Linked DNA regions of Homo sapiens. The protein of the gene in region 1 interacts with the protein of each later gene in a pairwise test. Each region holds a gene or a part of one and is shown on either strand. Other genes may lie near its edges.

What was found.
Region 2: the proteins of TOM1L1 (region 1) and DNAJB13 interact in binary tests that used the Homo sapiens proteins (3 or more experiments, as listed by UniProt).

Annotation. Positions count from the first base shown.
Region 1 is NC_000017.11:54,910,698-54,918,002, reverse strand, and holds part of TOM1L1 (TOM1-like protein 1), read right to left. Parts: intron 5,338-7,305; coding exon 5,188-5,337; intron 4,256-5,187; coding exon 4,130-4,255; intron 3,365-4,129; coding exon 3,260-3,364; intron 2,258-3,259; coding exon 2,141-2,257; intron 1-2,140. UniProt on the Homo sapiens protein: Probable adapter protein involved in signaling pathways. Interacts with the SH2 and SH3 domains of various signaling proteins when it is phosphorylated. May promote FYN activation, possibly by disrupting intramolecular SH3-dependent interactions.
Region 2 is NC_000011.10:73,967,883-73,970,943, forward strand, and holds the end of DNAJB13 (dnaJ homolog subfamily B member 13), read left to right. Parts: intron 1-56; coding exon of another isoform or gene 57-89; exon of another isoform or gene 90-462; coding exon 463-576; intron 577-1,363; coding exon 1,364-1,440; intron 1,441-2,078; coding exon 2,079-2,232; 3' UTR 2,233-2,399; downstream 2,400-3,061. UniProt on the Homo sapiens protein: Functions as part of axonemal radial spoke complexes that play an important part in the motility of sperm and cilia.

The DNA.
Region 1 (7,305 bases):
TGCCCCTTCTCTCATTTGAGACCAGATAGCTGAGAAAGGAGTAATGTTTCCAGGTGGAAACAATGATTGGGACAGAGGGATAGGGTATTATTTCTAGGCACTAGTAGCATTCAGGAAAAAAATAGAGAATACATAATCCAGAAGACCATCCATAAATGGATCCCAAACAGCATCATCCCATGTTGCTATACCATACTCTGAAAATATTATCAAGCACAGCAGTAGCAATTACATCCTCCCTTCAGCATGGGTGAGCTGGGTCAGCAGAGAATGCAGACCAGCTGGCAGAGAGTCTCACACAAAAATGAGCTCACTATCAGCAATCCAGCTGAACACTGGAGAATGCAAATTAAAAAATGAACAAAAAATTTGCAAAGGAGAGTCCACAGAACAAACAAAAAAGCAGCGTTAAATATAATTATTATCCTTGGAAAGATAAAGAAAAGCAGAACCATGAAATGAAAGAACTGTTATAAAAATCCAACATATTTTAAAAATATTTTAAAATTATGTACATATTTGTATATAGTAAATATGTTTAAAGTACATATTTTTAATAGAAAGAAATTGTTGAAACATTTATTAGAAGGACTGAATAAGCAACTCAATTACAAGTTTTAGAGAAATACATTAAACAGAGAAATTATCCCAGAACTTAGAATGAAGAAATGAAAAGTATAAAAGAAATGTTAAGAGACAAATGAATCCAACTGGAAGTTTCATCGTCTTAAAGTTCCATAAGAAGAGAATAGAAAGAATGGTAGAAAGTCAATATTTAAAGTAGGAGCTGAGAATTCCTAGAATTAAAAATACACATAAGTTGATAAGGCAAAAAAGCCTATCATCTACTAAGGAAGATAAGTAAGTTAAACAAACATCTGCACACATGTACATATATCTCTTCAGAGGGAACAGTACAATTTCTGAAATATTAACGTAGAAAAATAACAAATGCAACTAGAAAAAAATATTATTAATCAAAGGATTAAGAAGCAGAATAATATAATACTTCTATCAGCATTAGTGGGTGTAAGAGAACAGTGAAGCAGTATCTTCAAAGGCCTAGAATTTTGTGCCTAGAATTTTATATCTAGCTAAACTAACCTGCATTTAACATGACAATCAGAGGACATTTTTGGATATGCAAGCACTCAAAGTTTGCACCAAAGTTTACCAACATGGGTGTACTGCAGCAAGGAAAAAACAAACTATTCACGACAGCAGTGATATCTAAGAAACATTGTTGGGAAAATTTTTACAATTTTTTTGTTTCCCAAATAAGAAATGAGCAAGGAAAAAGTTATTTACTAACAATCTAAGAAGTTAAAGGAAAAATAACATGAGAGGTGGCGAGTGGGAATCTGAGAAAAGTAAAAATATCTTAAGCTTCTTAACTTGGCAACAAAGGGACTTAGAAACTAGAAACTGATTTTTTTTTCTAACTGCTTCTAAAATTAATAAGTTTTAAAATTTAAAATAATTAGAAGAGCAAACTGGTAGAGGGAAAAATAAAGTATATGTATACACAGACATAGCAGAAGGCATAGGAGGGCTGTAGAACTACTCATGCAGGTCTAAATGCCCTGTCTACTTGTTCCTCTATAGCTCGAGCATTGCCTCCATCTAGACCATTCTTAAAAACCTCACATCTCTCCTTCTCCCCACCCATGATCCCACCATATACTGAACAAATTTATACTACAGTATCTATAATACTTCATTATGTTTGTTGTTTACAAACCAATCTTGCTCATTAGGCATAAACTCTTAAGGACTAGAATAGCCTCCTTCTCATTTCTACATCCCTTCCTATATCACAGTTACTCAATGTTTGTTGAGTGGATGAAAATAGAGGCAATTTTTACATACTTAAAACAACTAGAGAATTGATTGTACATGACCAAGGTTATAACTTATAATAAATTATTTGTTGCAAGAGGCTAAAAACCATGTCTAAGTTACTACTGCATTTCTGACAAAGTCATTCTTGGATATTTTTGTTAAGTTTAGAAATCAACTGAAATCAGGATGTAGGAGGATGTACTAGACAATATTAAGGTGTCTTCCATCTCCAAACTCAAAGTTTAGAGAATAACTTTAAGAGACACTTTGACTGATAGTCCCTGAAATCGTACAACACCTGCAGAAGCTCTATGTCTTCATGGTTTTCAGACCCAGGAGTATTCTCCATCAATATGGCGGACATCACTCGCACATTCATTTTCACCATATCCAATTCACTGTGCAGTTTTCCAATCTGTAGAGAGCAACACAATCACCAGTCAGTGCGACACACAAAGAATAACTACCTTGTTTCCTGCCCCCATGGGACATTTGCTGGATGAAAAAATGCTTTTGCAAAATTTAATATTTTCAAACTTAAATTTAATTTCATATAAATATACATATAGTTATTTTACAAATGTATACCTTGTCACCTTCTAAAAGGACTTGAGATCTCTTGTAATAAACCCCAAAATATGCTTTAGGAATTTTAAAAATGAAAGGAAAAAAAAAGATTAGAACCCAATATGGAGAGGGGAGAAGTACCAGGTACCTAGCAGAAGAAGGTACCAGAAACCTGGATAAAATGGCAAAAGTTATCCTGAGTTTCTTGGCAACCAATAGGGTAAAAGAAAAACAAATGAGGGTTATCCAGTTCTCATGGTATTAAAGAAGAAGGAATAAAGAAACACCTTTTCTTCCTGTATTAAATTCTAAGAGGAATTAGTCACATGCATTTTTATATAAGAAAAAAATAATACAACAAAATCTTCAATTATAGTTCCTTTACAGCAGAACGGAAATTAGCCTCATATAATAATTGTTTATCGGTACCTTGGATAAACTGATATACACAAAGAAGTAAATACAATTCAGTTGGCATAATAAATACAAGTAATAAGACTACCATTTACTAAACTCTCTGAAATATGTGACAGTCCTACCAGAAGTAACAGGAATTAGCTGATGGACCCTAGATCCAGTCCACAGTCAAGGCTCCAGAAAGCCATGAAAGCCGCTAGGCAAGCACAACTCTTACAAAGTTGGGCTTTGGAAGCAGACAGAACCCATGGGATTACTCCTTCTTGGAACTGAACTATGGTAAGTCACATAGTATTACTAAGCCTCAGTCTCTTCCTCTGTGAAATGAGTGTACCTACATCTCAATGTTGTTAACCAGAAAAGACAAACTGTATATAAGGTGCTTACAAATCAGGAAAAGACATCAATTAAATGCAATGATTGTTGTTGTTACCTGTTCTGGGACCAATGTAACAGTCGAGTTCTTTGGAGCAATTACAGAAGAAAGAGCTGGTGCAGTAGGGACAGATGTTGGAGGATTTGATGAGATTTGAGCAGTCTATGAGTATGAAACATGGTAATATTATTATGTGAATTAACATAGCCACCCAACGCCAAGTTTTTTCCATTCAGCTAACTCAAGCACTCTCAAAGTCCTGTGTACAGGGTATCTGCCCAGAGTAAATCATCAGCTACACAACCCGTCCAGCATTTTGTGAAGAATGCTAAGCAAATGACATGCCCATAATAAAGCAGGTATTCAACAAAAGGTGGCTATTAGGATTATCATTTACAATTTAATAAAATGCCCTTTTTTTTTTTTTTTTAACCAAGGGTCTAAGTGATAAACTGCCATGTGAGATTATTGATGCCTTCTCTTTGGGTTGTTAATAACAAATGGTAGCTCAATTCATGTCAAGTCCTTTTAAGCCACAGCTGACAAGGCATCTCCTTCTCCATCAATGACCCTCCTTGGGTCAATGCCACATCTCCAACCTTGGGTGGAGAGGTGAAAGCTCAAGGCTCTAGGCCAGTGCTTCTCAACATTAATGTGCAGAGAAAACACCTGGAAATCTTGTAAAAAGGGAGGTTCTGATTAGTCTAGGGTGGAACATGCCAAACAAACTTTCATACTTTTAGTAGCAAAACACACTTTAAGTAGCAAAATCCCAAGTCTCGGTTATTCTATGAGATATTGCAATATCCTTCTAATAACTTCATCTTTTTGCTTAAGCTGGGTGGATTTAGGGTTGTCTCCTGTAATGAGAAAAGACCCAAGTGATACACTACTATAGTCTCCATGGGTCAAAGAAAGGCCTCCTACCTCTTGTCTTGCTGTTTCAGCCTCTGCTTCTGAGGGAGGAAACTGAACGCCTTTCTTAACCAGGTCGAGGTATACTTCTTTGACTTCGCTTACATCCACACCTCCTGGGAAGCCCTGTGACCAAGTCTGAATTCAAGAGATGAAAAAAGTTCCAGAGTTAAAACAGCAACAAAACCAAAACACAATTCTTTTTTTTTTTTTTTTTTTTGAGACAGAGTCTCACACTATTGCCCGGGCTGGAGTGCAATGGCACAATCTCTGCTCATTGCAATCTCCGCCTCCTGGGTTCAAGCGATTCTCCTGCCTCAGCCTCCTGAGTAGCTGGGATTACAGGCGCCCGCCACCACGCCTGGCTTACTTTTTGTATTTTTTAGTAGAGACGGGGTTTCACTATGTTGGCCAGGCTGCTCTCGAACTCCTGACCTTGTGATCTGCCCACCTCGGCCTCCCAAAGTGCTGGGATTACAGGCGTGAGCCACCGCACCCAGCCGAAAACACAATTCTTAAGCTCCTGATAGAAAATAAGAGATCAATAATTATGTACCCCACTCAGAAAGAGAAAGCTACTTTTGAATGCCATGGGCAAAATGCTCATTTTCAAAGGCTAGGAAAATATAAAATCTTTTAAATCAGATTTCCATGCCTCAAAATCTTGAAGAAACCCTAGGATATATACTATCAATTGTTTTTTGCTGCTCTGAATCCAAAATTAATAGATTCTAAAATAACATCAGTAGCTCTTTTTCCAAGTAACCTTGAACTAGTCAGTTAGCTGGAAGTTTCCCTACCTGCAAAGTGAACACACAGATCACTGTCTTTCCTATTTGACACAGATAAAATAGAAACTGAGAGGAAAGCAGGGAAATGACTACAAATTCTTCAGAAAAAGGGCACCATCCAATGCCAAAAAATTATTATTACACAGAAACTAAAATAGCAAAAATGCTTTTCTAGCTCAATCCTAGATATATAAAAGATAAGTGAAACAATCAGGAGGTAAGCTATTAAATCCCTAATCTTAGAAATTTACCATCCCATGAGGTATACAACAGACTTACCTTAATGAAATTCAAGATTCTATTCTGAATGTCTAATGGCAAGTTGTATCTGGGATTCAGTAGCTTAACTAAATTCTCTTTAACAAATTCCTTCTTCACAATCAGAGACTGGAAACTTGGACCACAGTTCTGCACACACATGTCAATAAGCTAAATTAGAAAAAAAATTAAACATTATATTTATCTGGCAAAACCACCTCCTAAAAATGTAAGGGAAAAACTGCTAAATAATGGGTTCCATCAGCATCCTAATTAACAAACATAATTTAGTATCTACTAAAATATATGGCAAAATGTTAGGTTCTGGGGATATGTGGAAGTATGAGCATAATGTAACAGTCTGGAGGACAGACTTATTGAGGAGTCCCAGCACATCCAGAAGGGCATTAACACCAATGCAGAGTACTAAATGCTAAATGCTGAAGGGACGTGCAGGCCAAACATATGAGCTATGGATGGAATAATATCTGTCCCAGTTTACCCAGGGTAGCACAGGTATATTCCCAATGTCCTGTTTATTAATGATGACACACCCTTTCACTTTCAAAAATGTCCTGGTTTGGATGATAAATTACACAGTCACCCCAGCTATAGGCCCTTATAGGCAAGAGTGATTATTTAGGGCTAGGTGGTCTTACAAGACTTTTGGAAAAGGCTAACTGGAAGCTGGGCTTTGCAAAATGGCTAAGAACAGTAAAAATGAGTATAGAGCTATATTCTAGACAGATAAATTGTATGAAAAATATATAAATGTGGAAAAATGGGTAAGTTATGAAGGGGGAGATAAGTATTCTGGTCTGTCTCTAGTAGAGGCATCCTGATATAGGTAAATTGGGGACACTGGAAAGATAGGGTGGATAAAGTCCGTCCAGGTTGTAGAGAAGTTTGTGTGGCATGCAAAGGGTGTGGATATTATCTTGAAGGCACTATGAAGTTATGGAGGGTCTCTGTTAGTTTGTCACCATCACACCTGTACCCTGAAATTGAGGAAAAGGTTAATGTGTGCAAAGTAATATTCTGGATAGGTTGTCAGGCAGCACTCTGCAAAGGCAAGCGGAGGGAGAAGAAACCTGGAATGATAGAAAGATCCAGTAGCAATGCACTATTTCAGGCATGTTATAGAAAAGGCCTAAACTAAGATGATGTGGGTACAAGAAAAGGAGGAGTCATGACACCATTATGAAGGAAGAACTTTGAATGACAGTGCTGGTCAAAAAAGGAAGATGACTGAAAGTTAAGTGACTCTCATTCTGCATGAGGACCCCTGTGACGGAAATTTGGAAGAGGGGGTGGTATGGCTGGTCTAGGTGTAAAAATGATGGGCTGAAATTTAGATATTTTGAGTTCAAAAGATAAGGGGCATTTAAGTAGGTGTTTAGCAGTGAGCTGGACACACACAGCTATAGTTCAAGAGAGTGAAGGGCCAAAAGTGAGTCATCAAGGCTGCCTACAATGAGAAGAGAAGAGGAAGGGCTGAAACACTGGGGTTCACCTACTATACGGGCCAACGAAAATCCAAGGAAGGCAATCAAAGAGTAACTGACAGAAAATGAAGCACAAAATCAGGAATACATAAGGCACCCCTTTGGTAAAGTCAAAAGAAAAGTTTCCTGGAGGATGGGGTGTTATACAGTTAAGAAGATGGTCTGAGGAACATCAGTTCCCTTGAAAAACACATTTGCAATAAAGCAACATGAGCAGAAACTTGACTAAGAAAGAATGAACCAATACTGAAGAACTGCATGCAGGAAGTAGATTTCTAAAAGTAAACTAAAAACAAAATTAAATCTTTAGTTTCCATGCTACCACCTCAAATTAGAAAGGTCATAGAAACCATAGCATGACCAGGATAGGTATAATCATCTCTGCAGAATAGAAGCCCTGAAAATGGACTTCATGCCATGCTTTGTATTTTTAGTCTCTCTTTAATGGCAATACATAAAGCGGCAGCATATAGCGTTTAAGTTATACTTAAAACGCTATAGTTTTAAGGCACTGTGACCAAGAAATAATCAGAAAATATAGAAACATGCAGCTGTGTGAAACACAGGGAAAACCTTTAAGGCAAAGAAAAATAAAAACAAAATCCAAAACATATTAAGATGAATCTGTACAGTT
Region 2 (3,061 bases), on another chromosome or scaffold:
GCGTGCTGAGGATTCACTGTCAGTGTTAGGGGCCAGTCTGATTCCTCTGTCCCCAGCGCCCAGAAGAGACCTCAGCAGAGTTTTGGTGACTTAATGAAGTTTGGGACAGGGGTGTCATGCCTGGAGTTACTAGCAAGACAGAGACATACGGGCAGTTGCCTGACGCCCAGCTTAGTGTTCCACCTGCCTGCCGTCTGAGGAAGCCTCTCCGCCCCTCCAGCTGAGTGTGTCTATTTTGGGCATGCTCAGTACAGAAGTAATTCTGGGGGGATTCATTTGGGTAAGCTTCTCGGGCTTCTAATCCATCTGGGCTATGGGGGCCAAACTGAAAAGGCCCTTCCAGAAAACCTGCTCTCATCTCCCCATTGTACAGATGAAGACATGGAGACAAGTAGAGGCAGGAACTTGGCCAAGGTCACACGGCCAACTAGTCCTTGTCACCTTTTGGCGTCCCCTGCCCAGGGCCCCAACATCATCCCAGCAGACATCATTTTCATCGTAAAGGAGAAGCTACACCCTCGCTTCCGCAGGGAGAATGACAACCTCTTCTTCGTGAACCCCATCCCTCTTGGCAAGGTGAGTGGGCAAAGTGCAGGAGCAGCGGGGAGGAGATCAGAGTGAGCCCTGCCTGCCCCGGCCTAGACTTGGCCTCCCCTCCCACAACCACCTGCCATCAGTCACTAAGCCCTGTGGATTCCACCCTCTAAATCACCATCCACTTGGTCCCGTCTGCTCATCTGCACCGCCTGGATCTGTACACCAGATCTGCGCAGCAGGCCTTCCTCCCCACTTCTCATCTCCTCCAGGCTCTTCTCCTTAGGGATCCTGCCACACACTCATCAGACCCTGCCACACTCCTGTCTAAACATCTTTGTGCCACTGGAGGCCCTCTGCGATCTGCTCCCTGCTTACTCCTTCCCCTGCACTCCCGCCCCTTCGCCGCATAGCACCCTGCCTGTGTGGCGCATTGTCACACCTCCGTTCTCATTTCTGCTGGGCCCTCTCCCTGGAATGCTGTCTATTCACCTGACCCTATAGGGTCCTCATCAATAGCTACCACCACTGCTACCACTTCCTGCCCCACTCCTGAATGGTTTAGGGGCCTCTCCTTGGCTCCCACAAACGCTTTTATTCTGTCTCCATCATTACATTTATACAACATCCATCTTACCTGCCAGATCCATCCATCTTTCCTGCCAGTGCAGAAAATTGCATGGGTCATTCACCTATTAGTTATTGAACAGCCTCGTCTCCCTTGTGCCCAACTCACAGTCTGGCACTGGACAGGTTCCTAAGGTGCCTTCTAAATAGGAGAGCCATGGTGACCCTCCTCAGCCCCACCTTTGGCCCTGACCCTCCCTAGGCTCTCACCTGCTGCACTGTGGAGGTGAGGACCCTAGATGACCGTCTGCTCAACATCCCCATCAATGACATCATCCAGTGAGTCCATCTGCCTTGGGCCCCAGTAGCCAAGAGAAGGGCTAGCCTGGGATTTAGGTGGTAGTGTGACAGGTCTGCCCAGTAGAGTTGTACAGGCTGCCCCCAGCAGAAGGGTTCCCTGCTGAGGGGATAGAGAGGACCAAAACTGAACCCACACTGGCCAAGCTGTGGGCTGCAATCACCTGGCAAAAGGAACATCTTTTTCTAATCCACACAAAGCCACTGCAGAGGCTAGAGGCCCCCATTGTTGGGCAACCCTGTAGCCTCCATGCCCTGCAAACTTCTCATTAGAGTTCTGAGTTGCATATCCTAAGTCCTTTTCCAAGAAAGGCCCTCTGCCCGTGAGGAGGTTTGCCTGGCAGCCCAGCACCCTCGCCCTCACCCCAGGGTTTGCTCACCTTTACTTCCCGTTTCCCATGTCTTAAACAAAGTTTCTGGAATCCTCCATCAGAGACTCAGTGTAAACAGGTTTTCAGGGAGCTCCTTTCCCAACCAGTTCTGGCTAAGAACCACTCCAGGTGAAGACTGCAGTGACTGTCCCCTTCCTGGGGTTATGTGAGTAGGGGTTATATGACAGGGACCTGCTGAGGTGCTGCTCTGGGATGCCCTCTATGCTCCTTTCTTTCATCCTATTTCAGCCCCAAATACTTCAAGAAGGTGCCAGGGGAGGGGATGCCATTGCCGGAGGACCCCACTAAGAAAGGGGATCTCTTCATCTTCTTCGACATCCAGTTCCCCACCCGCCTCACACCCCAGAAGAAGCAGATGCTGCGCCAGGCATTGCTGACATGACTGTGGTGGGCTGGAGCAGGGGTGAGAGGAGGCTAGCCGGGCCTCACCCCACCCCTACCCGCCACAGCCTCAGGGTGTGCAGGGGAGCCTGCTGCACAGATATGATACAAGGGTGGGATGGCGCAGGGCTTAAACTGACATAATAAAGATCTATTTCCTGTCCTCCAGCTACACCCACGAGAGTACATTGGAGAGGAGCTTCATATTAGCCCTTCTTGTGGGGCACAGGGAAGAAAGAGGCCTAAGGAGCTGAGTGCCTGAGTCCCTGTCCTGGCTTTGTGGGAAAGGGCAGGTAAGGGTTCAGATCCTCTGTGCTTCCACTTTGATAGAGTGGGGCAGGGCTGTGTGGCCTCTGAGGGTCTCTAGCTCTGCTCTGGCTTTTCATGACAGAAGAGACAATCTCTGGAGCATGATATGGTCACGTTAGAGACAGGAAAACTAAAGCACAAAAGAAAACATTCATTGCAGGTCACTCAGGCCTCAGTGGCAAAGCTGTCATCAGAACCTTGAAGGTGGCTGGGTGCGGTGGCTCATGCCTGGACTTTGGGAGGCCAAGGTGGGCGGATCACTTGAGGTCAGGAGTTCGAGACCAGCATGGCCAACATAGTGAAACCTCGTCTCTACTAAATACAAAAATTAGCCAGGTGTGATGGTGGGCACCTGTAATCCCAGCTACTCCAAAGGTTGAGGCAGGAGAATTGCTTGAACCTGGGAGGCAGAGTTACAGTGAGCTGAGATTGCACCACTGCACTCCAGCCTGGGCGAAAGTGAAATTCCATCTCAAAAAAACTAGAAAGGCCGGGTGTGGTGGCTTATGCTTGTAATCCCA